Homo sapiens: one gene and its partners. The protein of the gene in region 1 purifies or fractionates together with the protein of each later gene. This does not show direct contact. Each region holds a gene or a part of one and is shown in the gene's direction. Other genes may lie near its edges. The genes, in order: RNF19B, WDR48, ZMYM4 and ST7.

Region 1 (4,896 bases):
TCATTTCACTAGTTAGGCAGACCAGAGTGTATATTTTCAGAGGAGCATAACATGTTGCCTGAGAAGCAGTTGAATGCAACGGAGAAGAAAGGCCTAGGGAGGGGTAAAGGTAGAACAAAGCAGGATAGGAAGGTAGAGGAGATGGTTGCCTTCAGCTATCCAAAGGACCTTCAACTGTGAAAAGGATTAGACTTCTATGCCTCATACCAAAAGGTAGATTAAGATGACTTGGCAGAAGCTAAAGGGAAACTAATTTTGGTTCAGTATAGAGAATATAGGGAAAAGCAACATGAAAGCCCAAAGAGGAAAAAGGCTACTTTAGTAGATACTGAGCTGCCTATCCCTGGAAATGTTTACAATGAGACCAGATGGCTATTTGGCTATAAGAAGGATTCAAGCAACAGATGGCAGGTGGACTGGATCTCCCACCTGAGTGCCTGTCAATCACTTGGGAGCCTCTTAAAAATAGACTTCAGGGACCCATCCCAGAATGAGTAGCTTAGAATTTCCTGGAGTGGCACCTAGGGGGTGATCCGTGTTTTGCAAAAGCTCCCCAGGTAATTCTAGCACAGCCGTTGCATGAACCAGCATCTGACAACCACCTAAGTAGGAGCCCTTTCTGAAAGACTCTTCCAACTCAGAGTGATTCTGTGGCAGACCTGAAACTAGAAGCCAGGTCTCTGACACTGTGCACTTTCCATTGCATTCCCTCATTTCCCTGGGCCTTGGCACATTTTTGAAGGGCACCTGAAGCTGGAGCAGCAAAGCAAAGGCTCAGGCAGTAGGATGGAAGCTGCTTGAATGTGCAGCTGCAGGCTGCTACTGACCCGTCTGTGCATCTCATGACTCTGGTTGTCTCTTATCAGGGGATCCCGCCCCCACATGCTGGCATATTCACTGCTGTGCTTTCTTAAAACCAACACCCCTGTAAATAAGCAGACAGACATAATTGGAGACTGACTTGCTGAAACTGCAGCTTAGCCAGTCCAGCTGTTCTAGTTCTGTGAAAGCCTTTATTTTATAGGAAGTGAATGAGTCAGATGGGTTTGACTGTGAAACCCATTATAAGGAAATACTTAACTGTGCAACAAAGTGATGTTGGAGCCAAGAAAGGCAATAGTTATGGGCTCTGAGACACTATTGGGAAAGTTTGCTGCTCCAAGAGGAGGGAAGAGGTTGGCTCCTGTATGTCCTTCAGTCTCATTCCCTGGAGGTAATTTGATTGTTAAATGTTTGATTTCCTATTATGTGCAAGGCAGGGAAGGTAAAGTGTGTATGAGTTGTGGTCTCTCCTTTTGTGGAGTTAACAGACAAGTGAGAGATGCATAATAATAAGTAGGCAGGGCCTGCGCACGCCTGTAATCCCAGCACCTTTTTTAGGTGGGTGATCACCTGAGGTTTAGAGTTCAAGACCAGCCTGGCCAACATGGTAAAACCCCATCTCTACTAAAAATACAAAAATTAGCTGGGTGTGGTGGTGGGAACCCATAATCCCAGCTACTTGGGAGGCTGAGGCAGGAGAATCGCTTGAACCTGGGAGGCAGAAGTTGCAGTGAGCCAAGATCGTGCCACTGCACTCCAGCCTGGGTGACAGAGTGAGACTCCCTCTAAAAACAAATAATAATAAATAAGTAGGCAGGTGCTGTGGGAGTACTTAGCAAGAAGTGAATGGTTTGCTGGGATAATGAGGGGAAGTGATAGTTCCTTTGTTGTTAAGGACTGAGTATAAGTTTGTCTGGTAGAGAAAGGAAATTTCTAGAGAGACAGAATAGCATGTGCAAAGTCATGGAAGTATAAAATGTATAGGTATTTAAAGAAAGAAAGAATTCAGAGTGACTATGATTTCGGATCTATAGGGAGTGATAGAACTGGACAGAGAGCTTCCTGGCAGATCAGGAAGACCTTAATGCCTGTTGGCAGTAGGGAGCCAAGAGTTAGAGAATTGTTAGAGTGATTGGGTCTTTATTCACACTGGCACTGTTCTAGAGGTTGTTTGACTTGGACTTAAGGGCTACTGGAGAGGGAGCCCAGTTTTAGTCATCCAGGCAGGAGATGATGAAAACCTGAAGTTCAGCAGTAGCTGTGGGGATAGAAAGGAGGGGACGATTTCAATAGATATTTAAGAGAAAAAATGTATGGGCATCTATTTGCGCTGTTTGACAGTTGGAGAAGATCAGACAGACAACCACAATTTGCAAGAGAGTAATGGAAGAGATGTGTGCCAGGAAGCAGACTGTCTTGGAATACCCAGGTCTCATATTAACTTGAACGTCCCCTCTTTACACAGGTTAGAAGTTCAAGCCGATGTCCAAAAGGAAATTTTCCCCAAAGACACAGCCAGTCTTGGTGCAATTAGTGACAACGCAAGCACTCGTGCTATGGCCGGTTCCATAATCAGTTCCTACAACCCACAGGACAGGTATGTGAACAGTCAGATGTCCAGGAGAGGTTGCATTTTTTCGTTGGGTACTAGGTCTTCAGAAGTTCAATGCCTCATGTTAGGGCTGTATGTACCATCTCCTGGGATATATAGTGTAACCTGTGAATTCATTTGAGCAAGTTCTTGGTACTTGAGTGTTTGGCATCTCTTGATTCTTCTTGTTAGCGCTTGATTTTTAGAGATTTCTTTTCTTTCTTCCTTTTATGTATTTTTTCTTTTTTTTTTTTTTTTTTTTGTCTTTCTTGGCTATTGCAACAGTGTATAATTACATGGAACTTAAAGAGCTAGATTGATGTTCATTGATGTCTTCAAGTCTAGGGTTTCTGCTTGCCCTTTGCTTGATAGGATTCCCATAGCTTCTTTCTCTTTCATTTTGAGAAACTGGTGTATCTGGGATGGTGTGATTGTGGTACTCCCACTAGTAGGTATTCTGGCTTCTTCTACTTGTGGCATGGTAGTAAAAAGCTTTTACTTTTCTATTTTGAGTAAGCTAGCATGGGGCTCTGACCCTTAGTTGAATTTTGGAAGCTCTTTCTGTATGTTTAAAGAGATTGGCTGAGATACACGTGTGTGTGCATCTGAGCACACGTGTGCATGTATAGTTAAATCAGCAAAAAGGATCTAATTACTCTTCTCCATCTCATTTATTTTTATTTTTGTTTTTTTAGAGACAGGGTCTTGCTCTGTCAACCAGGCTGGAGTGCAGTGACACAATCATAACTCACTGCAGCCTTGAACTCCTGGGTTCAAGTGATCTTCCCATCTCAGCCTCCCGAGTAGCTGGGACTACAGGCACGTGCCTCCATGCCCAGCTAATTTTTTTTATTTTAGAAACAGGGTCTGACTTTGTTGCCCTGGCTGGTCTCAAACTCCTGGACTCAGGCAGTCCTCACACCTCGACCTCCCAAAGCGCTGGGGTTATAGGCATGAGCCACCACGTCCAGCCTCCATCTCATTTGAGTGTTAGATTAAAATGTTATTTTTGTTAAAAGTGAGCTCTAGTTAACTGTTCACCTATCTTTTTGAAATTCCTAATCCTGAACCCATGAACTGCTTTTACCAACAGGTTTAGCATGATCCATGCATGACTCAGCAAAGTGGATTTTGTCTCCACAGAGAATGCAACAATATGGAAATCCAAGTGGACATTGAAGCCAAACCAAGCCACTATCAGCTGGTGAGTGGAAGCAGCACGGAGGACTCGCTCCATGTTCATGCTCAGATGGCAGAGAATGAAGAAGAAGGTAGTGGTGGCGGAGGCAGTGAAGAGGATCCCCCCTGCAGACACCAAAGCTGTGAACAGAAAGACTGCCTGGCCAGCAAACCTTGGGACATCAGCCTGGCCCAGCCTGAAAGCATCCGCAGTGACCTAGAGAGTTCTGATGCACAGTCAGACGATGTGCCAGACATCACCTCAGATGAGTGTGGCTCCCCCCGCTCCCATACTGCAGCCTGCCCCTCGACCCCCAGAGCCCAAGGTGCACCGAGCCCAAGTGCCCATATGAACCTCTCTGCCCTAGCCGAGGGACAAACTGTCTTGAAGCCAGAAGGTGGAGAAGCCAGAGTATGAAGTGGAATGAATGCTCCTGTTCTGAGAAGCACACTTGTAACTGCATCTTTTGGAATTTTTTTTTTTTTTTTTCCAAGGGGTAGAGATTTATGTATTTTATTTCACAGATTCTCTGGTCACAGGTTTTTGCCCAGGGAAATTCTGAGAAATTCACAATTTCTTACCAGATAAAACATGAAAAGTTTGCCGTTAGTTCCCCTCCCCTCCCCTCCCTCTTTTTAGTTTTAATTTATTGGTTAAACTGATGGCAGCAATCCATGAGGTGTGTCAAAGAGTGTACATATGTATGTGTGTATATTGAATGCTAAACATATTACTGAAAGACACATTTTAATAAAGATTTCTGTCATAATTCAACTTACCTCATTTTCCTTGGCTTGGATAGTCCCACAGAGCCAAGTGTTTGAAACAAAGCACCATCTTTGACAGTCTCTAGACCTGAATTTTTCTAATCCAAGGGAAGAAGGATTGTATTCAAATCCAACCGCAGTAGTCATCTATAAACCTATGACTCCTAGCATGACAGGAAGCAAAGCTAGGCTTGTTTTGGACTTTGTAGTCAGGCTGAAGAATTATTAGCTGAGTCAGCTGAATAGGGAAGCAGTAGATTAAAACTAACTTTGTTTGCCCTCTAGAAGCAACTGTGCAATTTACTCTTAAAACTTTGCCCTTTTCTGCATTATAGTCACTAGTAGTCATATGCTTCAGAGGAGAGAAGGAGTGGCAGTCCCAGGTAGCTCTTAAGAGAATTCTCAGTGGTCAGGCATGGTGGCTCACGCCTGTAATCCCAGCACTTTGGGAGGCCGAGGCAGGTGGATCATTTGAGGCCAGCTGTTTGAGACCCACCTGGCCAACATGGTGAAACCACGCCTCTATTAAAAGTACA
Region 2 (7,035 bases), on another chromosome or scaffold:
AATTCCTAGAAGTGGAATTGCTGGATCCAAGGTTATGCACATTTTAAATTTTGATAGATACTGCCAAATTGCCCTCCACAAAGGCTGTAGTAGTCTACATTCTCACCAACAGTGTATGAGTGCCCATTTCCCCACACCTGCACCAACACTGGATACTTCTAATCTTTGCTAAAAAATAGGCAAATAGTATCTCATTATTTTTATGTGGATTAAAAACAAATTAATAGTGAGGTTAAGCATCTTTTCATATTGGCCATTTGTTTTTCTTCTGTGAATTACCTGTTTGTATTCTTTACCCATTTTTCTATTGGGTCATTTTTCTTACTGATTTGTGGGGTGGTGGTTTATATTGAATATTAACCCTTTAACTATTATCTGTGTCTCAATTAAATTTTCACTTTGTTCCTTTTGCCAGGTGAAAAGTTTTACTTTTTATATAATCAAATTGATCCTTGATGGCTCTTAGTTTCATGTCTTGTTTAGGTATTTCCTACTCCAAAGTAACAAAAATATTCTCCTATATTCTCTTCTAGTTCTTTTATGATAATTATGTCTAGCTCTCTAATCTATTAGAATTTAGTCTTCTGTTTGGTGTGAAGTAGGATTTAGACTTTTTCCAAAGGGACAGCTAGTGTGCTAGCACAATTTATTGAAAATCTGTCCTTTTTCTACTTATCTGGGATGCTATGTTTATCATGTACTAAATTTCTGTATACACATGGGTCTGCTTCTAGACTCTCTTATGTACTGTTGGTCTATTTTGTATCTTTCTAAAGCCATATGAAAAGGAATTTAATCTTTAGAACCTTCAGAAACTTTATTTTCTGTCCCGGATATACCTCTAAGACTTAAAGCCAATGTGACACCTGATGGATATTCCATGGTCTTCTCTATGCCTGAGCACCCCATAAGCCACTAATTTCTTTGAGTGTGAAACTCACCTGGGACGCATTGCTGACTTTAGCCCTGTGGCTTATTCTTGAGAGGAGACATCCAGACAGGATGTGACATGAAGGCTTGGAGGGGATTAATACCCTGAGAAAAGATGACCACGTAATTTTATCCTTCATCTAAGAATGTGGTTTACTTCATGGTAGACATCTGGGTTCTTGGCTGAAGTTTCCACTCTTTCTTAACACCTCAGACCTCACTGTGATGTCAGAGGGAAAGAAAATGGGAGGACTTTGATTGGCCTTTTCAGTTGGATGATGGGCCTCACCAGCACAGAATGTGTGGCTTTGCTCAAAGGTGAATGCTGTGGGTTTCTCTCAAGACACTTAAGTTTTTGTTTGGGCCTTTAGGTATCAACTCCAATATTTTAATGTAGAATTGAGATTCTGGTTTGTATGGCTTAAAAAATTAAAGTTTGTTTCCCTTTAATACCTTGTACTGTTATCTAAGAAGAGCCATGCTACAATTTCATATTACCTCTAATGTTACATATATTTTTCTGATGAATTTTCTCGAAGGCTGACTTAGGTAATTTGATAGCTTACTATACATTTCATAGAAAGTCACTTTTAATTGTAAGATAATTATTACTTGCAAGTCATGTTTTCCTATTAACATTATTTTCATTTATCAACTAATAGAAACTGTTATACCTTTTTAACTTTTACTGTTTCAGAAAAATATGCCCAAATTCAACAAAATTCCTTTCTACCTCCAACCTCATGCATCTTCAGGAGCAAAAACCTTAAAAAAGTAAGTAAATATATGGTTTCTTGATCTAATTAACTACTAGAGAGAATTCCTTTTCCTTATGATTGCTTTTATAGCAAAGGAAGCAAATACCAGATCTAAGGCTGATTTTATAATATTCAAAGTTTATACAATTAAACCACTTACCAGGTACCAACTTTGGCCGATTACAGGTGTTCAAAAATAAATAAGGCCAGGTACAGTGGCTCACGCCCATAATCCCAACACTTTGGGAGGGTGAGGTGGGAGGATTAATTGAGGCCAGGAGTTTGAGACCAGCCTGAGCAACGTAGTGAGACTCCTGTCTCTACAAAAGATTTAAGTAAAAAAATTAGCTGGGCATGGGAGCACACGCTTGTAGTCCAAGCTAGCCAGGAGGCTAAGGCAGGAGGATCATCAGAAGTTTGAGGCTGCAGTGAGCAAAGATCATGCTACTGCACTCCAGCTTGGGCAACAGAGAGAGACCCTGTCTCTAAGAAAAAAATGATAAATAAAACACACATTTTGTCTGTTGCCTTAATTCACAGTTTAGGACCCAACCTGTATATAATAGTTGTTTTTATGGATACTTAAGGAATAATGAGAGTGAGAGAAATAAATGAGCTTTTGGCTGGAGCTTCCCAGTAAGGCTTCTTGAAGGACGTGGAATTTGAGTTGGACATGTAATGATTGGTAGAACTTCAAAAGATAGATATTCCAAGTCCAGGACACAGTGTGATCAGGGATGTGGAAGTGGGAGCATGCATAAGATAGTGGAAAGTAACGTGAGGACCCATGCACCTGCAGCATGGGATGGAGGGGCAGCAGGGGGATATTAGGAGGTAAATTGGAAAAGCAGTTAAAGGTTTTGTTGATGTTGGATTTGAATGCCAAGCCATAGAGCGTGCAGTGACTAAACACCAGAAACTTTTGAGCCAATGTGGGATATGGTCCAGGGAGACCCAAGAGAAGAATTTTAGTAGTGTAGTAATGGGATGCTAAACTATGAACAATATGTATTCTAGCAAATAAAATAAAAAAAATTTTTAAACCTTTTTATTACAGAGATTTCCAAACTTATATAGAAAGAAGCTAGTGAGCCCCCATCGTCCCATCAGATAGCTTCAGTAATTATCAATACCTTGCTAAACATTTTGCTTCACCTATACCTCTACCTGCCCTCCCACCCATCTCTGTCTACACACACACACACACACACACACACACACAATTATTTTAAAGTGAGTCCTAGACATCAGTTCAGATAGATTTAACAACTGAAGTTCAAATGATTTTCAGAGCGTAGGCCTTAGTTTTTTGGTATAATAGTTATTGACTGTTATCAGAGATACAGAAGTAGGGTGTTGATGAGTCTAGTTTGGGACATACAGAGTTTGAGGTGCCTGTAGGACATCCAACTGAAGATACCCAACCAGCTGTTGGGTTTGTGGTTTAGAAGAGAAGGTTGAGACTCAAGGTCTAGACTCAGGCATTGTCTGCTCACAGGTGCTAGCTGAAGGCATGGCAGTGGGGAGGAGAGCCCAGGGAAAATTGAGCACTAAGAGTGTCGGACCCTGGTAAGCACTGGGAGCTGCCTGCCTTTCCAGAATTATTTAGTTTGCCCAGGTTCTGGGAAAGTATTCAAGGGAATAAAACCCAGAAGGCTACTATGTATGTATATGTAAATGTTTTTGTTTGTTTTTCTGAGATGGAGTCTCACTCTGTCGCCCAGGCTAGAGTGCAGTGGCGTATCTTGGCTCACTGCAGCCTCTGCATCCTGAGTAGCTGGAATTACAGGCGTGCACCACCATGCCCAGCTAATTTTTTGTATTTTAGTAGAGACGGGATTTCACCATGTTGGTTAGCCAGGCTGGTCTTGAACTCCTGATCTGAAGTGATCCACCTGCCTTGGCCTCCCAAAGTGCTGAGATTATAGGCGTGAGCCACCACACCTGGCCTGTATATGTCAAGTTTTAAGAACACATATTAATCTCATTTAGTTGTACATAAACTGTGTCTTAGAAGGACACTGTAGAAAATCTTTCCGCAGCTCTAAAAATGGATTAAGGTAATGACTAAAAACATTTATTGGTTTATTTTTCATCTTTAAAATGTTTGCATCAAAGAAAAATAATATGGAATAAATAATATCTAGTGATTTCCCTGATGTCACAATATGCCATTGCTTTTTTACAGAGATAGACTCTCTGCTAGTGACATGCTCCAAGTCCGAAAAGTTATGGAACATGTTTATGAAAAAATTATCAACTTGGATAATGAGTCTCAAACCACTAGCTCTTCTAATAATGAAAAACCAGGAGAACAGGAAAAAGAAGAAGATATTGCTGTGTTGGCAGAGGAGAAAATTGAACTTTTGTGCCAGGACCAGGTAAGTGGACTTGAGGACTACAGCCCCAATTTTTCCAGTGCTGGTGCTCATAAAGAGTTACATGCCTTTGGGTGGGGGGCTTCTACTTTTAGAGGGGCTCTAAGGAGCCCTGGGCCTCTCCTACCTAAAGCCCACCCTAAAGCTCCTCTTTACTGCTGGGGAGATTTTCAGAGAAGGGATACATAGACAAATGTGGATGTGCTGGTAGCTTTTTTTTCTGACAAGAAAAAAGACACATGGTCTTCTTGATTTGCAAAAAGCATGTGCCATGTTTATGATTTAGAGTGAAGGTGTGCGGAGAAATGGCAGAACTGTTTTTTAAATCAAGATGCACTCAAAACGTATCCTCAGAGGAATGGCTGAAAGATGGCCTGGTGTTTCTGGCATAGTCACAAAAGATGTACATCTCACTAAGCTCAATTTCATTCCCGCATGCATGGAAGCCGTGACAGCAAGAATTGGATACCAGGCATAGGGGAGGAGTGAGCAAGCTGGATCACCTGATGAGAGTCCCTGAGTTAATGATAAGGTTTTAGATATTAGAGACTTTGAAATTTTTAAATTTAATTTTGGCTATTCAGGTTTTGGATCCAAATATGGACCTTCGAACAGTGAAACACTTCATATGGAAGAGCGGTGGAGACCTCACCCTCCATTACCGTCAGAAGTCCACGTGAAGGCTGGGCTAATGCTCCTGGATATTCATTTACGACCTTCCTCTATGGCCCCAAGAGTAGTCCTAGGAAGCCCACTGATCCCCAACGGGAGCAAGACTTCTAACGGCTGATTGGTATGGACCGAGATTATCTTTCAATTGAAGTGACTAATCGAGATGTAATATAGAAACCAGTCTCCATGTGTAGATTAAGCTGTCCCCAGGGAAGCAGAGTGCAAGAGCAGAAGAGCCCCAAGCAGACTATGTCTTTCAAGATGTACAGAAGACTGACAACAGGCCAGTGCAGACTTTGCTTCCTCCTTTTGTTTCAAAGGACCTTATCTACCCATTAACACTTGTTAGAGACACCTCAGTCGGGCCACAACTGTCTCTGTTTCAACTTTAAGCCCACACACTCTGTAGCTTTTCTAAAACAGTACATTCCATTCATGCAGTAGATATGAAGGCTTTTTCCAAGTTTGTCATATAAAGTAATCAAATTGTTTTCACCGTTTAAGACAGTTATTTTTAATGGGAATTTGCTGTTGCACAATTTGAGAACCAGCCCATTTCATAATAAAAGATTAATGTTGGGCTTGTTGTTAATATTGCATCTCAGATGTGTTCTTGTAGGAAGATCTGTTGAAATTCCAGGTGCTGGATCATAGCACTTGGACTGTTGGGCCGGAGTTTGTGCAGCCCATGCCTAGCGATGCTGCACCTCCCATGATGTCCTGGCTTTGTGGCAACCCCAGGGAGGTGCAGCAGTTTCACTCCTTCCTCCACTGTGTCCAGTTTTATTTACACAAAGCGAGCTGAGACCACAGGTTCTTGCTCTGGATGAGCAGCATGACACCATCAAAATTTAAGACCATGATGAAATTTCAGTTTCATTCAAATGTTACCTAAAATTTATGGTGTCAGAATAAAGGGAGATCATAGTGAGTTAATTTGATATTCATATCCTGGAAGTATACATATTTGTTTTTCCAAAGTTTTATATGCAGGTTTTTGTTGTACCTGTATCCAGATCTTCTTTTCACTGTTCTAACAATCTAACACTTTCATAGAATCATTTGGATCTTGTATAGAGTGTAACTTATTGGGGATAAACACTTCAACTTTTGGCAGAAAATACTTTGGATTCTCCCCAAGGTCATTTGTATTCAGAGTAAATCAGTGGTCCACCCCCATAAAACTGTAAGACAAGCCTCCTGTATGAAGCCAGAAGCACAAGTGCCTTCAGAGGGCAGTTGATTCCAGTCCAGTTGCCTCCCTAGCTTGTGTGTGGCCTGCCTCCACCATAGCAGGGACTAGGGAGGGAGGCAGGGAACGTTTTTTCTTTTCTACATCTTCACAGGTTCGGCTGGGGGCAGCTGATAGGCCTAAGGCCATACCTTACTATTTAAGATACTCTGATCGCACAACTGCAGAGACAGGGTTCCCTCACTGCTAGTCAGCTTCTTTTGGAAACTGGACAGGCCATTGCCACCTGCACTTTGAAGAAGTGAGCAAAGACGTGGCCACATTTCTAATAAGTTGAAATGGTCTTTCTCCCTTCCTCAGAGAGCAACCAGCTTCTTTTTTTTTAAAAGTCCTTTCTATCTGTTGGATACAACAGTGTGCTTTTGGTGCACATTTTTTAGCAATAGTTGTGAATTAATGGCAAAGAAAAAAAAAATTATTTACCAGCCCTCAGTTGTGTTTGCCCGAGGGGCCTTTGAGCAAAGAAATGGGTTTTGCTGGGTCATTTTGCCCTGTGTGCTAAGCCTTGGGTGGCTGCATTCCCCTCCTGTCATAGATCTGACCCCCAGCATGATTGTATTTCTTTCCCCTCCAGTCAAACCGTAATACAGTTTCCAGAAAATTCGACAGTCTGCAATGCCAAAAGGGTAAAAATCTGTATTTCACAGTTGTATAGAATAAAGGCTTTAGTTAAAATATTTCAAAGTGTAGTACACATTTATTTTCATTTGTTATTTTCTTTCATAGCAGATTACAGAGAAAGAAAGAAACCTCTGGTTTCATGTTCTCCCTGGAAATATTAGCATTGATACCCATTTTATCCTCCAACTTATGGGGGAAGGGAAAGTAAAAGTGAGGGAGGGAAGAGCCAGAACCTTTGGGTGAGGGCAACTTTGGGTCAGACTGCCAGGCTACAGAGTTAAGGGAAGCTGGCCCCAGAACAGTCCTGTGGCGATTCTGTTCTACTTCCTGCATTCCAGCAGACTTGACACTGGGCTCCCAGACGATCCAGGACACAATGCCTCACTGTTATGCACACGTATCAGCTGCTCTGGTAGGCTTGACA
Region 3 (7,035 bases), 2.3 Mb from region 1:
GGGCCTGGCCCAAAAGTTAATTTTATTTTTAACAACCTATAACATACGCAGGACTTGTATAGGTTTCCCCCATTATTTTGCCAGTTTCATCACAGAGGAAAATTACATTCATTGATTTTTGGAATTAATGGTGTGGTGGCACATGCTTCTAGTCCTCGCTATTCAGAGGTTGAGGTGGGAGCATTGCTTGAGCCCAGGAGTTGGAGGTTGCAGTGAGCTATGATATTGCCACTGCTCTCCAGCCTGGGTGACAGAGGGAAACCCCCTCTCTAGAAAAAGTAAAAATAATACATAAATAATATTTTTTGATCCATAATTCATTTTGTTTTTGATATTTCATTAGAATGTTCGGTATGATTGTCTTAAATGATATAAGTACTTTTTTCCACTTTTTTTTGGTGTGTGCCAAATTACATGTGGATTCCATATGTATACTCCAAGCCGATTAATGGGGACTATGCAGTACCATGTCTTTGGAAATTGACTGCCTTGAGGGAGTTGAAACAAACTATCCACATAGACTTAGATAGTAACTTTAGGCTATTCAATCTGAAATTGCATTGATGACATGGTATTGTACTTAATGATGCTTACTGCTTTTGACCTTTGTAATCATGTCACAAAAAAGTTGCTAAGCACCTGTGCTATTTCATAAGCTACATGCTAGGCATTGTGCTTTGTTACTTAGGGTCATTTAGGATAATATATGCTGGCTCTCTTGATAAATTGTGAACTCCTTTAACATAGTATCTATTTCATTGCTTTTTGCGTCTGGACATCTTGTGACCTCTACACAGTAGGAACTCAAAAGACTTGCTGACTTATTTTTGTAAGAATAGCTTACCTAGTACAGCAGAGGCTCTATGGGTTGAGTACCAAGTTCTCTGCTTTGTAATTTTGAGGGGCTCTGTAAATCTTTCATAGCGTCCTTTACTCCCCAGAGTTCTCTCCTATGGATCCAGATTTAGGGATCTTCTGATTGTTCTGGATTATGGTTAGATGGGCAGGTGACTGCATTTTTTGTTGTTGTTTTTGAGATGGAGTCTTGCTCTGTCGCCCATGCTGGAGTGCAGTGGCGCTATCTCAGCTCACTGCAAGCTCCGCCTCCCGGGTTCACGCCATTCCTTCGCCTCAGCCTCCCGAGTAGCTGGGACTACAGGCTCCCACCACCATGCCCGGCTAATTTTTTGTTTCTGTATTTTTAGTAGAGACGGGGTTTCACCATGTTAGCCAGGATGGTCTCGATCTCCTGACCTCGTGATCCACCCGCCTCGGCCTCCCAAAGTGCTAGGATTACAGGCGTGAGCCACCACGCCCAGCCGGTGACTGCATTTTAAGACCATTGGGTTAACAACCTTAAATTCTAGGTAGGCCTGCCTGATGTCTTGTTTTTATATTTGTGGGCAGTCGGAACACTTGTATTCAGAATATGCTGGAATGCTAGTCTCTCAATTTGTGAACACGGGGGAGCTGAGTATGTGGGTGGATCAGCGCTATATTCATCTATCATCTCTAGTATAGAGAGAATTAAGTTCATATCCTAGTGCCTATACATGAAGGCGTTACAGCAAGCATCACACCCACACAAATACATACACACACACACACTTTAAAGTTGGCATATTATTTAATTTTTTTAGATGATAAAATTTTTGTTTTCTCAAATAGCTTTTAAGACTCATTAGGTAGGCTTATTATAAATGATTGAATTATTTATGCATGGCTATTATAATAACCAGTATGTTATGAAGTATGAGGTCTAACTAAATCGGGCGGCCATATTTTGTTGTAAAATCCTTGTCTTTTCAAAGTTTACATACAAAATAATAACTTTTGTAAATGTAAATATTACCCGGTCTAGTAAATTGTATTCATTTTCATACTTAAAATTCTGTGTGTATTAAATTTGAGATGTATATACCTGGTATGCTTAAAAAAGAGAGAAAGCATATGTATAAGTAGTATGCTTCCATTTTTTGTGAAAAACAAAACAAAACGACCTTTCTTGCCTCCCCACATTTGTGTCTGTATATGCTTGTACATGTATGAACTTAGAGAAAATTGTGGAGGACACAGTTTGGGATATTACCACTGATTACCTTCAGTGGGTAGGGAGGAGAAACGAAAGAGAGTATAAGGGTGCAAATTTCACAAAGTGGAAAAAGTATTCATGGTATAATGCTAAGTGAAAATGTAGACTATAAAATGTTATCTATTAATATATAAATCTGTGAAAATTGAACACACATATAGACAGTAGAAAATACGAACAAATGAAAGCATTGACTTCATGATGTGATGGGATATGGAGAAGTTTTATTTTGAATTTCTGTTATTTTAATATTTTATAATAAAATAATTGCAAAAGATTGATCCCTCTTAATTCCTTAATTAACTTTTTCTCTTTTCTGTCTTTTTGCTAAATGTATTACTTAAAAACATGGCGGTACATATCATTACAATATTTGCGGTTTATATGTATGCAATGTGAATAATTTGCTTTTAGAAAGTATTGACTCTTTGTTTAGAGACCATTTGAAGAGGCCATTCAAATACAGTGATTCTGCATTGTTTTCACACTGCTTCCCATCTTGTAACACACAGAGGGATCTGTAAATAATAATACTTGTGGCTGGGTACAGTGGTTCATGCTTGTAATCCTAGCACTTTGGGAGGCCGAGGCAGGAGGATGGCATGAGGCCAGGAGTTTGAGACCATCCTGGACAACATAGCAAGACCCCATCTCTACAATAAATTAAAAAAATTACCCGAGGTTTAGTAGCCTCGTCTACTCATGAGGCTGAGGTGGGAGGATTGCTTGGAGGATTGCTTGAGCCTAGGATTTCGAGATTGCATTGAACTATGATTGTGCCACTGCACTTTAGCCTGGGTGACAGAGCAAGAGAGACACTGTTTTTTTTTTTAAAAAAAAAAAAAAAAAAGGAGAGGCCATTCTAATACTGAGAATGATTCTGAGTTGTTTTCACACGCTGGTTCTTCCCATCTTGTAATAAGCAGAGACATCTATAAATAATGATAATACTTGGTATTATAAACCCTTAAGTGCCAGTCATTTTTCTAAGTATTTTACATGTGATGTATTTTTCAACCACAATTATTGTCCCATTTTATAAATTAGGAAATTAAGGCACAGAGAGATTTGCTGGAGATATGATGGCTAAATCAGGATCAATTATTACTTGAACTGGTCCTGTTCGATCATATAGGTTAGAACTTTTGTTTATCCAGAAATATTATGGTTAGTGTTTATATTCTCATTTGTAAAATAAAGCACATAATTCTTTATCTGGAATGTATGGATGTTAGAATAATTTGAATTACATTCAAACAAAGTTGATGTAAGTTACTTCTTAGGAATCATTAAGTTAACTTGTTCCCTAAGAAATACATTTTTGTTTGAGATCATCTTAAAATATGTATTCACAGCTCACATTTATTTTTTAGAAAATATACACTAAATATTTTGAAGCTGTGATTTACTTTAAAGATTATGTTTGTACTTTTTTTGACAATGGAAAGATTTTCTTTTTTCTTTTCTTTTTTTTTGAGACAGAGTCTTGCTCTGTCGCCTAGGCTGGAGTACAGTGGTGCCATCTCAGCTCACTACAACCTCCACCTCCTGGGTTCAAGCAATTCTCCTGCCTCAGTCCCCCGAGTAGCTAGGATTACAGGCGTGCACCACAATGCCCAGCTAATTTTTAGACAGGGTTTCACCATGTTGGCCAGGCTGGTCTTGAACTCCTGACCTCATGATCTGCCCGCCTCAGCCTCCCAAAGTGCTGGGATTACAGGCGTGAGCCACTGTGCCTTGCCAGAAAGGTTTTCTTACTAAAGAATATGTAAGTAGATAAATATAAAATTTCAGTTTCTATGGATACTTAAGAGGTATTTTTGAATTCTGTATTAGGAGAACAGCCACTATTTAAAGAAAAGTGATATTTCCCTTAAAAATTCTGATTATTTTACTATGAGCTAACTGTATGTACTTACTTTAGCAAAGGAGAAAGGCAAGTATTGTATAAATGTACTGTATTCAACCCAACAAAATTGCTAATACTTGACCATTTGACTTAAAAAAAAATGACACTTTTATGTGGCTTAGCCATTAGCAGGAGCATGGGTTTTTCAAAGTCAGTTTATGGTATAATCTCTGGAATTTAGCAATTTTGGGGTAGTAATAGTTCTTATCCAACCTTCTCATACCTATACCCACTTTCTTGTACTTAGGAAATATTTATATTGTTATTTTAATTTCATTCATATCATCTTTCTGGCCTCCTAGAAGCTTTAATTAGCTGCCTTTGACCAAAGATAGTCCTTTTTTTTGTTTTGTTTTGGTCTATCCAGCGTATAGAACCCAGCACTGTCAGTTCTTTGAGAACCCAGCACATATCAAGAATCATATGTGTTTTTCTTTCTTTACACTTCCCAATATGTCTTACAAATGTATTTTAATACTGACATGCATATTATACATTTATAAGCCAAAAATTAATCTACTATTCCTGTCTCATCTAACTACTCATTTCTGTCCCTCCCTCCCTCCCTCCTTCCCTCCCTCCCTCCCTTCTTTCTTCCCTCCTTTCCTTTCCTTCCTCCTTCCTTCCTTTTTTTCCATAGTTGAAATAATTTCAAAGAAATAACACACATCACATCATTTAATCTATAAATACTTCCGTGTGTATTTCTAACAGATAAGAATTTTTAACAAGCACAACCACAATACTGTTACGACCTAACAAAAGAGTTCCTTAATCCAGTCTGTGTTCAGACTTCTCTTATTCTTTAAGTGTCTTTTTACACTGATTTGTTTAAATCATCCAACTAAGAGTTACACATTTCATTTAGTTTATATGTTTCTTAAGTTTTTCTTAACCTTAATCACCTCCCCCCACCTTTTTTTTTCTTTTTGAAATGGAGTTTTGCCCTTGTTGCCCAGGCTGGAGTGCAGTGGCGTGATCTTGGCTCACTGCATCGTCCGTCTCCTGGGTTCAAGCGATTTTCCTGCTTCAGCCTCCCGAGTAGCTGGGATTATAGGCATGCACCACCAGCCTTGGCTTATTTTGTGTTTTTAGTAGCGACAGGGTTTTGCCATGTTGGCCAAGCTGGTCTCAAGCTCCTGATTTCAAGTGATCCACCCGCCTCCGCCTCCCAAAGTGCTGGGATTATAGGCATGAGCCACTGCACCCAGCCAATAATCCCCTTTCTTAACTCATACCCCCTGTGCTCCTTTCCCATGCTATTTATTTGTTGAAAAAAATAGGTTATTGTTCCAGGATAATTTTCCACATTTTGGATTTGGCTGATTGAATCCTTGTTATGGTATTTAACATGTTCCTTTACCCCTCATATTTCCCACAAATTAGTAGTTAAATACAGAGCAGTGGTTCTGAACTTTGGCTAAAACTTTAGAATTATCTGGAGAGCTTTTAGTTATCCTGATCCCTAGGCCACATCTCCGATAAATTAATCAGAGCCCATGAGGTAAAATGTCATCATCAATATTTTAAAAAATTTACCAAGTGATTTCAGTCTGTAGCCAAGATTGAGAGCCCTAGTTGGTAGAGCTTGATGAGTTTAGGTTCAGTTTCTTTGGCAAGAAATATTTATAAAGAGTGGTTATATAATTTATTTGCAATCAGACAATTTTGAGAATGAAAGGGGGTGCTATAATGATTACACAGAAGGAATAGTTTAAACTGGAATTGTTCTAGACAAATTAGGATTTATAGTCATTCCATTAGATGGGGCTGTGAATTCTTGTTGGATCGTTCTAGGAGGTAACTTAAGTGGTGGTTCTACTTTTAGTGATACTAAATGGATCATTTGGTTTAGGTTCTGTCAGTGGGATCCAAATGTAATTTATTTTTAACTTTTCACTTAATGATAATTCTTGCCTATATCCATTATTTCATTAGAAGAGTGATTTTTTTTGGTCATTTCTTTTGTATTTATTAACTGGAATTCTTTCATAAAGAATTCCCTCATCAATTATTTGGTTACCTTGTAATACGGTTTGTAAAGAAAAAGCAGGATAAATGCTTATTTTTTTCCCCTTTATCAGTAATTTTCAGAAAAATGAATTGATGCCCGCCCTCACAACTCCCAAAGGTGAGGTTTGGGAGGGAGTATCATTAGGAACTCATGAGTTTTACCATATGTGATACATTCTAATTTATCATAGTCATTATTTTTGGTGTTCAATTTGTTGTATCTTTGATGATTGGCGGTCTCTTAAATTAGTTTCCTAAGGCTGCCAAAAAACTGCTACATACTTGGTAGCTTAAAACATCAGAAATTATCTCACAGTTTTGGAGGCTAGAAGTCCAAAATCAAGGCTCTAGGGAAGAATCTTTGCTTGTCTCTTCTATCTTCTTGTGGCTTGGTTGGTATTCCTTGACTTGTGGCGGCAAAACTCCTGTCTTTGCCTTCATCTTCCCTTGGTCTTCTTTCTGCATCTTCTTTTCTGTCTCTTAGGGTCTACCTTATTCCTGGATGTTCTCAGCTCAAGATCCTTACCATAATTACCTCTCCAAAGATCTAGTCTGCTCACATACTGTGGTTCTGGGTGGACATAACTTTTGGGAGCCACAGTTTAATACACTACAGTTCTTTTTTTGACCCCTAAAACTTCATTTACATCCCATATGCAAAATAAATTCACCTCATCCCAACATCCTCAAAAGTCTCGACCTATTACAGCATGAACTCTGTTTTTTTTTTTTTTTTTTAGATGGAATTTCACTCTCTCGCCCAGGCTGGAGTGTAGTGGCAGAATCTTGGCTCACTGCAACCTCTGCCTCCTGGGTTCAAGCCATTTTCCTGCCTCAGTCTCCCAAGTAGCTGGGACTACAGGAGCGTGCCGCCATGCCTGGCTAATTTTTTGTATTTTTAGTGGAGACGGGGTTTCACTATGTTAGGATGGGCTCCATCTCCTGACCTCGTGATCTGCCCGCCTCGGCCTCCCAAAGTGCTGGGATTACAGGCATGAGCCACCATGCCCAGCTACAGCAT
Region 4 (7,035 bases), on another chromosome or scaffold:
GAGTCTGTGTTAAGTGCTTCGGAAAATGACCAATTATGTTGTATCTAAGTGAATGAAAAGGTTGGTAGCAATGTCATCTCAAAATGCATAAAATATATTCTCCAAGAACAAATGACATTAATGTGCAAAAGACACGCAAAATCTCTGTTAGAGTGCCTTTTCTTGATTTCCTTAGCCTGTAGTTTTGTGAGCACAAAAAAGGTTTGCTATCAGCAGTTGAAATACTGTGGAATAGCACATTAATACACTAATATGACTTTGGAGATTTTGGCCAACCCTCTTAGCAATGAAATATGTTCTTGTAATTTAAGCTGACACTCCTAATTTAGCTCTTGTCCTCTACTGAGTCTACCTAATTATATGTATGGATTGACTTGGTGTTTTCTCTTTTTCTTAAATAGTAATGCAGAAAGCCTGGAGAGAGAGAAACCCCCAAGCTAGGATTTCTGCAGCTCATGAAGCCTTGGAGATAAATGAGTAAGTGGGGGAAAATCTTGCTGTTAAAAAGGAAATCTCATCCTTTGCTGAATATATTCAGTTGCCATTGATAGGATACTTAAATTAAACTGCATTTGAACTGGAGGATTATTTGGGGAGTTATTACTCTATTTAAAAAAGTTTTTTTTTTAAATGAAGGACAGCCACCATGTGGAGGTGGTTTTAGTCATTTTATGAATTCAATGGCTTTGCTGTGATCCTAAATTAATTTCTTGAAGGGCTATCCCTAGGATATTGTGAGGATATAAAATAAATACAATTCTTTACATATCTAAAACATTCTGACAGGGAAAATTTTCCAGATGTAGAATGCTCATCTGCACTAGAACATTTTCTAGTAGAACTTCTGCTAGTGGGGAAAACATGATAACAACATAAGGTTTAAAAAAAAAATTTTAGAAAATACTTCAAGATTAAGACAAAGATAAGAGGAAATGCTGTCTTGAGTGTTGTTAAACATTCTGTGGGTTACCAAGGAAGGCTGGGAAATCTCTTCTGGAGATCTCAGAAAATGAGAAAGATTCTTAAAGTTGGAGTCATAAAAACTCAGGGTTGGCAGAGACCTTAAAGGTCACTTAGCTGAACCACCCATCTGGTGCTTGAATCACCTCAACACTATCCTTGCCAAGTGGTCATTGTTAAACTATTTTATGATTTTTCTGAAGAAGGTTACAGAATCTTCTTCAGAGATCTTAGGGAAAAAAAAAAAAGATTGTCGTGAGAGTTGAAAATCCTGCCATTGTAACCAGTTGATCTACGGTTTCTGATTCTGTCATGCAACATATTTATTTTCCAGTTTCTTGTCATCTACAAATTCGATATGCCTGCCTTCTGTGTGTCATCCATATTTCTGAGAAAAATATGAAGGCCAGGAATAGAGCCCTGTGACATGACATAGAAACTACCCTCCAGGTTCATGTCTTCATGAATCACCATCTTTTGTATTGTTCACTCAATTACTAAGCCACCCAGTTACACTGTGACTCAGCTCATATTTCTCCATTTGGATCTTAAGAATGCCAATCGTAGCTGCGGATCTTAAATTTATAGTAAATCTATTACAGTAAATTAAGCTAGCACAATCTGATTTATTTATTCTTAGTGAATATAAGCTGGCTTCTAGTCGTCACTACTTTCTTTTTAAAGTGCTTGGAGACCATTCCTTTAATAATCCATTAGAATATCTTTCCAAATCACTGTGTTCTGTAGTTTGGGAAGTCTGCCTTCTTCCCCTTTTTGAAAATTTATGCTACATTTATCATCTCATCTTCTAGCACCTCTCCATTCTTTGTGATTCCTCAACTATCCACAGAGAGCAATTCCATGGCCTGCCTACAAGGTCTTTCGGTTTCCTGGGATTTGCCCATCCAGTCCAGTAATTCATTTAGAATGGATCAATTATTTGCTATCTTACATCTTTTTACCCATTTTAGAGTTTAATTTCTTCTCCCTTTTTCAGTCTGACAGTCATTCTCCTTGATAGAGAAGCCAGGAACAAAATAGGAGGGAGAGAGTTTTGCTTTTTCTTTATTATCTACTGCTTTTAACAATAAACCTTCCTTGTTTTGATGTTATTATGTTGTTTGTCTTTTTTTTTTACTTATTTGCCTTTGTGACATGGGGACGGTGATAGGGCCTTAAATATAATTTTAAAATAGGGAATAAATGGTTGTCTTTAGTATTTTATTTTGTTTTATTATTATTATTATTATTGTTATTTTTGCAAGCTTCAGCTAATTTGGAATTGTAGCTCTCCTGACATTATTCTTATAAGCTCATTCCACTCTCTTATAGACCATCATTACATGCCCTCTTTCCATCTTTTAAAATATGTCCTTTAAAAATCTGACCTGGGAGAAATCTCTGTGAAGCCGTGTTGGTTACTTAAGTGCCACCCCTCTTTTCTTCCTGAGAGGATCATTTGTGATTGCAGTTACAGTTGAACATTTGGAAGCTGCTCAACCCTCTTAAACCATTTTTCCTTCTGAATCTCATGCCATTGAATCATGCCTCTTTTCTTTGAATTTTTTGAAGTCCACCTTCCCCTCTTTGATTACCCTGAACTCCGAAATGACATAGTGACTCTCTCTGAATGTTCCTATCAATTTTCATTTTACCAACTATTTTTTTCTTCTTGGTCAGAATTAGGTCCAGAGTTGAAGTTCCCCTAATTGCTTCCTCTACCATCTGGGAGATAAAATTGTTACCAAAGTAAGTCAAGAACCTGTTGGGTGCCCTACTTCTAACCAAATGAGACTTCTAGTGGATATCTGGATGGTTGACACCCCCATCACCACACTTTCTTGCTTCTGTATGTGTATTGTGTTGTGACAAGGATGCATCATCTATATCTTCCATCGAGCTGAGCAGTCTGTTCTGTACTCCCCAACCATTAGCACTTCTATTGCTCTCTCCTTTTTCCTTCACTCACAAGCTCTTAGCATGTTTCTATCCCAAACTCATGCGTTTCCACATAGATGTATGTTTCTTGGCCAGTAGTGCTACTCTGCCTCTCCTCCTAAGAATACCATTTGAAATATAAATAAGCAAAGCAAGCAAGCTAGCCCCAACCATTCTTGGGTTCCCAGCCCAACAACTACAATCTTATAGCTAATTCCTCTGATACTGTATCTACCACTCAGTATTACAATCTCAATTTTCACTTCATTACCCTTGCCTCATATTTATATGTTGGCATCTGAAGCCTTAAGCATTTCTTCTGATGCCTGTCCCAGTTATTTTCTCCAGTGAATCACTTGTATAGTTTCAGCATCATTATGGTTCTTTCCAAGTCATGGATGCTGCCATCTGTAGAAATTGGTTTTATAGCTGTTTTTCTGGGCATTTTTCTCCCTACCTCACCACATTGTTTAAAGCCCCATTGATGGTTCCTGCCTGAAATTAGAGAGACTGGCTAAAGACCTTACAGACCCTTCCTAAGGCTAAGATTAACTAGTAGCCCCAGCCCTTACATTAGCTGTGAAGTTCAGCCTCCTTTTCCTAGCTGGCTATTGCAGTTTGTGGACAGTAAAAGTAACATTTGGTTTTACTTTCTGTTTATTTTCTCTCTTGTGGTCTGATGGAAATAAGTAGGGAAATGGCCACAAGTGAGGCAGTGGGGAAGGAGAGTGAAAGGATGGGTGCAGGACCTGCGTGGTCTGTTACAGCCTCACCACTTCCCTATTACATTCCCTTTCTTTGGCAGTGGGTTGTTCCTCATATGCTTTGGAAGGTTTAAATTCACAAGAACTCCCCATGTTCATTAATTATCCTTTTGGCTTCCCACCTAAGAGGGTTGTTGAAAAGATTATATGAGATGATATATGTTAAGTGCCTGGTACAGTGCTTAATATATACTAAGCAACAAGTGGTAGCTATTGTTGTTGAAGGCATGAGATTTAACTTGTTAGCTACTGTGGCTGAGTCAGATTTTGAGTTCTTCAGAAATAACACTACTTGTAGGTTCTTCCAGTGTTCTCTGAAGCAGAAAGTCAGTGCTAACTGTAAAGAGATGTTGAAGCACTGTGTTTTTTTTCAGTGAGTAACTTGATTTAACGAATTTCTTATTCTGAAGAAATCCTTAGATTGAAGATAATCTGTGTTTAGTTAACAGAAGTAAACCTGTATATAGCACCTCTAACTTTGAGTGTTGGAAGGAACTATTTAATAACAGCTGTTATCATCACCATCACTAGCTGACATTTATTGAGCACTTAACCACATGCTGGCTACTGTACTGAGCACTTTACATGCATCACCTTACTTAACCTTCACAACAACACTGTGAACAAAGATTCCATGTTGTTCTCCATCAGGGAGGCAGAGTAAGAACTTGCCCAAAGTGACACACTAATATAAAGGGTGAAGTCCACATGTGAGCCCCATGCTCTTAACACTACGCATCCTACCTCTCAAGCTAAAATACAGATGTTTCTTTTGTACCATTATTTTGTGTCAGCAACTACAAACAGGAGTGCATGAACCAGTTGGCCACTCTGCATGTTTTGGCGTAACTCCTTGCCTTTCTGCATGAGCTCCTACAGTCTATTACCATGTCCTTGGCTTTGTAATTGATGGTGGCTATTATCTGAATGAACAGGTGTGCAACTGCTTATATTCTCTTGGCTGAAGAGGAAGCAACAACCATTGCTGAAGCAGAAAAATTATTTAAGCAGGCCCTGAAGGCTGGAGATGGCTGTTACCGACGCTCTCAGCAGCTACAACATCATGGATCCCAGTATGAAGCCCAACATAGTAAGGTTTCCTGCAGGTTGATGCATTGGGGGATCAGAATTGTAAAAATTATTAATCAGAGCAAATTTTTAGTCCAGTTCAAAATATGATTCTCCTAGACAAGAGAAAATATTGGCTTTTGCTTTGTTTTTATTAATTTTCTTCTTTCCTATAAGTGCAGTTAGTAAATAATTAACTTACAGCTTCATTGCTGTTTATATTCACATTCTCTTTCCTGCCCATAGATTCCTAACCGCAGAAATAAATGGCAGTAACCTTTAATAGTAACCTTTTTTCCTCCTGAGTTCTTACATATTTCTGTTCATCAGTTGCTTCTGCTCACAACTTTAAAACCCAGATGGGAAACAGGATTTAAATTAGCCATAGTGTTAGCAAAGGTTTTATCTTATAGATCTTCTACAACATGGATTGAAATAGGACAATTAAGAATATAAGTTATTGGTGATTGTATCAGCATTTATCTCTTACATAAGAAACATTGGTATTGGCTTCCAGAGAGAAAGAGCCATGAGCTCCTAGTTATTTATCTTTTTTATATTAAAATAATGCCTTTTTAAACTCCCCAAAAAACGCCTTTTTAAATTTAAGATAACTCTTTAAAATCTGAGACCTTTCACTTCAGTATACTAAACTGAAAGCCAATGACATTTCGTGGGGGAACAGTATAGAAACAAAACAACGAAATCATTTCTGGAATTCCCTGAGCCCCTCGACTCATCAGTTTGTTTGTTGTTGAAGCAGAAATTTAGCAGTCCTTGTGGTAAGAGAGTTAAGTATTTCCATGGTCCAACCAAAATTTGAGAGTATTTCCATGGTCCAACCAAAATTCACAAAGTTATTTTGTTTCTCACTTAGTTTCTCCCTCCTGAAACTTAGAGAGTAGGGATGTATCTCCTTCATATTTGAGATTATAAAATTAAATGTTAACGTTAAACTTGGGTTTGGTGTAGAAACTGACTGCATTAGTCCCCATAACTAAGGTGCCAGCAAAATCTTTGCATTATAGCCTGCATATACATGAGTATGTCCTCACATGTACCACATCAATTCCTAAGTTTTTATTTTTATTCTGCAGCATATATATGCTAATAAAGTCTCTAATCACCATCTATGTCTCACTTTTTAATAAAAAAGTATTTTAGTGTAATGCAGTGCATTTTGAAGACATGTAGTAAATGTGTATTTTGTGAACTAAATGGAAATCAATACATAAAATTACATAACCTATAATACAACATTAATTTTCTTTCTTTTCTTCTCTAAATTAAATCTTTTCAACCTGTTGCCTAAATCCATCCAAAAATATAATCACATTTTTAAAATAATTTGTAGGTACTTGGCAGATTTTCAGCACACATCTTGTTCTCATTGTTTAAGTCTTGAAATGTTAGGACTTTGGTCTTAACATCTTTTAATAGCTGCATATTATACATGTACTTAATCTATAACAGGTGTGTCATATTTTCTCAAACATGGTAATTTTTATCGAGGATTAAGCACATGCATGTTCTCATTGGTCTGAAAACATATCCAACAAGACATATAATTAAATAAAAGATTAAGATTAGAAATTGTTAACGTACTTTTTAAGAGTCATTTTAGTGATTGTTGTTACAACTATTTAGCTTGTCAATTCTTTCTCTAACACTAGGGTAGTTTTTCATTTTGTTGCATACTCTATTGTCATATCTGGAATGTGTTATATTGCCATCTAAAATCAACTGCTTAGGGGACCTGGAGATGATTATGATGTCACTAGTGTTAGGGAAAGAATAATATAAAGCAGAAGTTTAAGATGAGGCTTCTCCAGACTTAATGTCAAGAATGAAAAAAAAATAGTTCATCAGGATGTAACCTGAGATTCACCTCTGCATCTTTACCAAAAGAATGCACGCTTGAAGAATGTGGAATTCCTGCTTGTAAACCGTATACACTGTGGGTATGTTCATTTTCGCAGCACTTTGTGGCAGATGATTTTATTTATTATCAAATATTCAACATCCTCACTCAAAAGCATGGATTAGGTAATTAGTCAGATGATTTGACCTTTGGGAGTCTAAGTGCTTTTACTTTACTTGATCTTCATTCTACTATTAACAAAGTTGTCAGTGCTATGAAAATTTCCTTTAGGGGCAAGGCAAATGGGCCTCTGTATTTTTTTTTTTTTTAAATGTTGGTGTTTTATATCTCCCTCTTCAGGACGAGACACCAATGTCTTGGTGTACATCAAAAGAAGGCTAGCAATGTGTGCCAGAAGACTCGGGAGGACCAGGGAAGCAGTGA

What was found.
Region 2: the proteins of RNF19B (region 1) and WDR48 purify together in Homo sapiens (affinity purification with mass spectrometry; 2 studies listed by BioGRID and IntAct, with this or other methods). This does not show direct contact.
Region 3: the proteins of RNF19B (region 1) and ZMYM4 purify together in Homo sapiens (affinity purification with mass spectrometry; 2 studies listed by BioGRID and IntAct, with this or other methods). This does not show direct contact.
Region 4: the proteins of RNF19B (region 1) and ST7 purify together in Homo sapiens (affinity purification with mass spectrometry; 2 studies listed by BioGRID and IntAct, with this or other methods). This does not show direct contact.

The regions. Positions count from the first base shown.
Region 1 is NC_000001.11:32,935,920-32,940,815, reverse strand, and holds the end of RNF19B (E3 ubiquitin-protein ligase RNF19B), read left to right. Parts: intron 1-2,287; coding exon 2,288-2,419; intron 2,420-3,506; coding exon of another isoform or gene 3,507-3,528; exon of another isoform or gene 3,529-3,556; coding exon 3,557-4,010; 3' UTR 4,011-4,367; downstream 4,368-4,896.
Region 2 is NC_000003.12:39,089,998-39,097,032, forward strand, and holds the end of WDR48 (WD repeat-containing protein 48), read left to right. Parts: intron 1-1,627; coding exon 1,628-1,704; intron 1,705-3,876; coding exon 3,877-4,069; coding exon of another isoform or gene 4,070-4,255; exon of another isoform or gene 4,256-4,650; coding exon 4,651-4,746; 3' UTR 4,747-6,667; downstream 6,668-7,035. UniProt on the Homo sapiens protein: Regulator of deubiquitinating complexes, which acts as a strong activator of USP1, USP12 and USP46. Enhances the USP1-mediated deubiquitination of FANCD2; USP1 being almost inactive by itself.
Region 3 is NC_000001.11:35,271,693-35,278,727, forward strand, and holds part of ZMYM4 (zinc finger MYM-type protein 4), read left to right. Parts: intron 1-7,035. UniProt on the Homo sapiens protein: Plays a role in the regulation of cell morphology and cytoskeletal organization.
Region 4 is NC_000007.14:117,131,484-117,138,518, forward strand, and holds part of ST7 (suppressor of tumorigenicity 7 protein), read left to right. Parts: intron 1-401; coding exon 402-477; intron 478-2,640; coding exon 2,641-2,709; intron 2,710-4,597; coding exon 4,598-4,752; intron 4,753-6,951; coding exon 6,952-7,035. UniProt on the Homo sapiens protein: May act as a tumor suppressor.